Linked DNA regions of Homo sapiens: region 1 is linked to region 2. Evidence: fine-mapped expression QTL. A gene starts in region 2. The other region holds a variant in brackets. All regions are shown on one strand. Distances are between the middles of the regions.

The links. PIP is the estimated chance that this variant, and not a neighbour inherited with it, causes the effect.
Region 1: its variant is fine-mapped to the expression of CFAP20 in macrophages after interferon gamma (Alasoo 2018, PIP 0.95).

What each region holds. Positions count from the first base shown.
Region 1 is chr16:57,624,798-57,627,811 of GRCh38, reverse strand. It overlaps a transcript of ADGRG1 not described here. Among named protein-coding and RNA genes, the nearest start is that of ADGRG1, 2.3 kb to the left of the region's middle. RefSeq lists an enhancer at 1. The variant T/C (reference allele first, on the strand shown) is at 1,233.
Region 2 is chr16:58,128,139-58,130,638 of GRCh38, reverse strand. CFAP20 (cilia and flagella associated protein 20) reads left to right here and starts at 1,258. Exons shown (of 6, transcript NM_013242.3): 1 at 1,258-1,607. The coding sequence starts at 1,524. It overlaps LOC101927556 (a long non-coding RNA gene), which reads right to left and starts at 1,755. Exons shown (of 4, transcript NR_188516.1): 1 at 976-1,755. RefSeq lists silencers at 234-471, 1,594-1,733 and enhancers at 152-1,072, 1,364-1,533, 1,073-1,994.

The DNA of each region.
Region 1 (3,014 bases), 500 kb after region 2:
GGGTTCAGTGCCCTTCTCGAGTCAGGAGGCTTTGGATAACTCACACTCCCTGCAGAGGCTCCTGTCTGCCCTCCTCCTCCGAGCAATGAGGATAGATGATTCCTCAGTCAGATGTGCTGGGAGGCTTTTACAATGCCAGAAGGGTGAGTGGTGACAATAACAGTAATTACACTCGCTGACCACCGTCTGCATTCCAGCTCCAGAGCGCCCCTGGCAGTGGAGAGAAGTCAAACCTGCTACTCAGACCAGTGCCTGGTACTTGCCAAGCCCTCAATAAATACTCCCTGTGAATGTGGTGATGAAGAAGAGGGAGCTTAAGGCAGATACATGTAGCTCAGAGATGAGAATTAACCTGCCCAAGATCACACAGCAGGGAGGTGCCCGAGTTGGGATGGCGGGAGCACAGGCCGTCTGGCTCCATAGCGGGTCTCCTAACCACTCAGCAATCCAGCACCCCAGGCCTCAGCCTGGGGCCTGGACACGTGGATGCTTGGGGAACTTGAGATTCCTTCTCTCCGGTAGAGATCTGCCTTCTAAACAAGGGGGCCAGGAAAAGCTTCCCCATGCCACGTGGAGGAAGAATGAATGGAACGTCTCGGGCAGCCTAGGAGCCAGGGCTGCTGCAGGTGAACTGCACTCCTCACCTACCTGCTTGAAATCAAGCTGCAGAAAGGAAGGGCCACAAAGCCACCCCGTGGGGTGCAGGGAGGCCATAAGGTGAGAGCTTCCAGAAAACGGCACTGTGCTTCCCACATTCACAGTCCCCAGTCCAGGCTGTGGGCCAATACCTGGGGCAGGGAGGCACAGTGGGGACTGGGCCCATGTCATACCCTCTGCTCTCTCCCGGGGCTGCAGTGGGAACTCCCTTATTGCCAAAGCAGCAGAGGCCAGCCTACACTGGGGGCCCACTAACAAGGGAGGACAAGTGAGTTATCTAGGGGAGGATGGGTTGTCCCTGACATACCACCACCTCTGCCTCAGTTTCCCCAAGGTCAGTCCTTCAGGGCCTGATCAACTGGTAACCCGGGCAGCCTCAGCTGTTCCCCAGGGACCAGGCCCACAGGGCAGCTGTCCCCCCACCACCACCACCACACACACACCCCACAGAGCGTGCTGACCAGAAGGGCACAGATGGAGAGTTGAAGGCACCACTCTCTCTGCAGATGGCTGAAGAGAGTGCGGAGCCAGCTGCCACTCTGGCCACATAGGAGAGGCTTATGGGGCTGCCTGGC[T/C]GGGCGGAGTTGGCTGCCCAGCTCTGCCTGCCTCTCTCACCGTCGGACTTTGCAGAGACCTACTATGAGCTAGGGGCAGGCAGGTGAGGAAGCAGGCCCCCAGCTCTGAGTCTGGCTAGAGAGACAAGCCTGGTTCTCATAGTAGCGATACCTGGAGTTGGTATTCAGCATCCAGGGGTCTCTGGGAGTAAAGGGGGAGAAATTCAATGACTTGTTAAACACAACACTATCTGTTATGAGTGCTGATAACAGGACTAATAATCACCTGCTATGTCTGGAGGTTTTATGGTGTAAGATGCTCTGCTTGTACAGATCATTCTCATTTTATCCACACAACCCTGTGGGTTGGGTACCACTTGTATGTTAGAGATGGTCAGAGACATGAAGTAACTTAGCCAAGGTCGCACAGCTTGGACCTGGCTGGGCCTCCAGGTGTGTGGGCTGTAACCAAACACGGGACACCAGATATCCGGCCCCTGCTAGGCACTTCATCTTCTCCTTCTGTTCTCACAACAGTCTATCCCCACTTTACAGAAGGGGAACCGAGGTACAGGGAGGGCTACCCACGCCTTTCTATAACAGCCAGGATCTGAACTAAGCGTGTAGACCCCAGAGCCCCTGCTGGGACCTGAAGGAGAAGAAGGGGGCTTCGATAAACAGAGACCAGCAGGAAGGGCACCCCAGGCAGAGGGAACAGCATTGGCTGAGGTGGAGAGGTAGGGCATGGAGCCATGCTTGGAAGGAAGTGGGATCTAACTGGGCAGCAAGGGGCAGATTCTGGAAGATTTTGAAAGTGTAGAGTTTGGGCTTAAATCAAAGGTACTGGGGAGCCAGAGAAGATGTTTGGGTAGGGAGAGGCCTGATTAGCCCTCAAAATGTGGTCTTCAGACCTACAGATAGCCTGAGACCTGCTGAATCTGAATGTGTATTTTAATAAGATGCCCAGGGGATTCCAGAATTGGAGGTGTGAGAAGCCCTGGTCTAGACGCCAGGGACTTGTACCAGCAATGATGCGGAGGGATGGGCAGAGGAGTAGAGGGGAAGTTGGGTCCGGATGGGGCCTCGAAGGAGGCAGATGGGGGAAGAGCGGGGGAGGAGACTTTGGTCCAAGAGACCAGGAAAAGGGCTGGGACACCCCACCCCCCACAACCCGACAAGTGAAGGTGGGGACCGAGGAGAGGGGGAAGATGTCTGAAACGTCCCTGAAGAATCGGGGCACAGGATGGGGTGCAGATCCGGAAGGCAGAGAAGAGACTGCCCTGTGTGCAATGGAATGGGGGCAGCTCTGTGTCATGTGGGGAAGCCACAGGTCCCCCCTGCTTCCCAAGGCAGCTGGAAACACGTCGTTGGGGCTCAGCAGTGAGGGACTGGGGTCGCCAGGCCCAGAGAAGGTCATGGCATCATTGGCTGGCGACGGAGTCCAGAGATGGTGTGGGGAAAGCAGAAAGCTGAAGGTGCAGGAAACCCTTCGTTTTGAGGGACAGAGGAGAGGGGGCAATGCTGCTGCACCCTCTCTGAGCCCGGAGTCTGTGATCACAGACTCTGGGTTCAGGCCAGCTGGCCTCTACTCCCAGCCGGCCAGCTGGATGACTTGGGCAAGCATCTCTCCATCCATTTATCTCCTCGCCTGCCAAGTGGGGACCAAAATAGCACCTTCTATTGGGCCGATTAAATGAGGCCACATGCGTAAATCTTGCAGCCCAGGCCTGGCAGACAATGGGCACCCCAATGCATTGGCCAGGGCACTGTTATTCAGAGGGGCCTGCAAAGGAGGTAGAGAGG
Region 2 (2,500 bases):
TTTATTTTTATTTTTCAGAGACTGTGTTGCCCAGGCTGGAGTGTAGACCAGCCTGAGTTTGAGACCAGCCTGAGCAACACAGTGCAACCCTGTCTCTACAAAAACAAAAAATTAACGCAGGCATGGTGGCCCACGCTTGTAGTCAGCTACTCTGGAGACTGGGTGGAAGGATAGGCTGAGCAGGGGAGGTCGAGGCTGCAGTGAGCCATGATCGCGCCACTGCACTCCAGCCTAGGTGACAGAGCGAGATCCTGTCTCAAAAATAAATAAACAAATAAATAATAAAATAAAAATCAGCTGTTGGTTCAACTCAACTTTCTTAATTTTGTTTATGAATGTCTGCCTTTATCTTAATGTTCAGGATTATTTATTTATTTGAGACCGGGTTTCGCTCTGTCGCCCAGGCTGGAGTGCAGTGGCGTGGTCTCGGCTCACTGCAGTCTCCTCCTCCCGGGCTCAAGGGATCATCCCACCTCAGCCCCCCAAGTAGCTGGGATTACAGGCGCGCGCCACCACGCCCGGCTGATTTTTGTATTTTTTTGTAGAGGAAGGGTCTCGCTTTTTTGCCCAGGCTGGTCTTGAACTCCTGGACTCAAGCGATCCGCCTGCCTCGGCCTCCCAAGGTGCTGGGATTTCGGCCGTGAGCCACCGCGCCCGGCCTAATCATGTTCGGGCTTTCTTATTTTCTAATCAATGTATTTAAGGCGATACATTTTCCTCAGAGTGTCGCTTTGACTGCATGCCACAATGTGAATAATGACAGGCAGGGATGTATATTAGGCGCTTATCACAGTTAGTGCTGAATATTGGTTAGTTCCCTTTAACCTTATCCTGTACTTGGCCGACAAGCATGTGTTGGGCGTCCGCCCGACGCCAAGAAGCTCTTTTTCAAAGCCGCTTTCCCTGCGCAGCCCCTGTTCTCCCGCGCGGGCAACTACTCCCGGCCTGGCCGTCACGCCCCCTCACGTCACTCACCGCCCCGCCACGTTCTCATGACACCACGCAGGTGCCAGCAACGAACTCCAGAACCCTCCGTGCCCTTCCGCTTTTCCAAAGGCATCTCTGGGACGACGGCAAGAAAAATAGTTCCTTGACAACTGAGCTCTTTTCAGGAGGAGGCGGGACCAGGCGGGACTTACAGGCGGAACGAAACGGAAGTCCGTGGTCCTTGTAACGGGATTGGGCCCCGCGCTCCCGGGGGGCGGGCTCAGATGGGCGGAGGGATTCATTTTAAGCAACGGGCGGCCCTCCGCCTCCATTGAAGGCGGGGAAATACCGCGGCGCGGACGGTAGTTGCTGTGGTTTCCGTTCTGAGCTCGCAGCTTAGGAGCTGAAGATCGCGGACTTAGCGTTGCCGCGTCCGAGTCCGGCCATCAGTGGCTGCAGATCCGGAGGCCAGGAGCTCAACCACCCTTCTTCGGAACAGGGCCGGCCTGCTGCTGTGCCCTCGACGCTCGGTGCCTGTATCTACTCCGGGGCCTAGGTCGGCTCCGGGGGCGGCTTAGGAGAAGGCCGCCGGCGAGATGTTCAAAAACACGTTCCAGAGCGGCTTCCTCTCCATCCTCTACAGCATCGGCAGCAAGCCTCTGCAAATCTGGGACAAAAAGGTCGGGCTAGGGGCGGCGACGGGGCGGGGTGGAGGGGCTGCACCCCCTCCTCGTCCGGGGGCTGGGGACGGGGAATGGTTGTGTCGAATTGGGGCCTGGGAGAGGCCGAGAGGACGCTGCTGTGCCTTGTCCCCAGCCTGGCGGGACTGGGGCGCGAGGTGGGGGCGTCGTGTAAGCAGCGGAGGAGGTGGGGGGGGGGCGGTGCATGTGGGTGGGCGTGGCTGAGATCTAAGTGTCCTGCAGCTGTGGTGTGGTTAGGACCGCGACCCTCGCTGCTGTCTTGACTTGGTCGGTCAGTCCATTCTTTTGAGCCACTGTTTCCCCACCAATATAATGGGGTTGATGGTGCCCATCTCGTAGCATGAAATGCACGAACTTATTTGAAGGAGCTTTGGGGATGTAAAGATGAAAGGACCTGCTATTCACGAATTCCAAATATTTACTGATATCCGTTTTTGTGCCAGGCACGGTGCTGGGCACTAGACACAGAGCCTTTGTTCAGGCACCCTTACAGAGGAGCAGACAGAAAGACTCCGGCCAAGCCAGTGATGTTTAAATTGCATTCATTTGCTCCCTTCCTCCCACTGATCCCAAATAAGTCAGAATTCAGTGGCCCTTGGCACCTGCTCCACACTCACTGTGACTTGCCTGTACTATGCCCTCGGTGCCTGATTTCTCCATCAGGAAAACTGCAGAATGCTGACAGTCAAAGTCTTGTTTGGATTAATAAACTCAGAGCCAAGTACAGGCCTCATCTTTATTCAGGCATCCACTAGATGATATGTGTTTGGCCCCACGAGATGATGAATCTGTTTTTTGCAGATGTGAAGAAAGATCTAGCTGTCTATGAATTGGTCTGCATTTTATTACTTTGGTATTTCGTTCTTCATGCA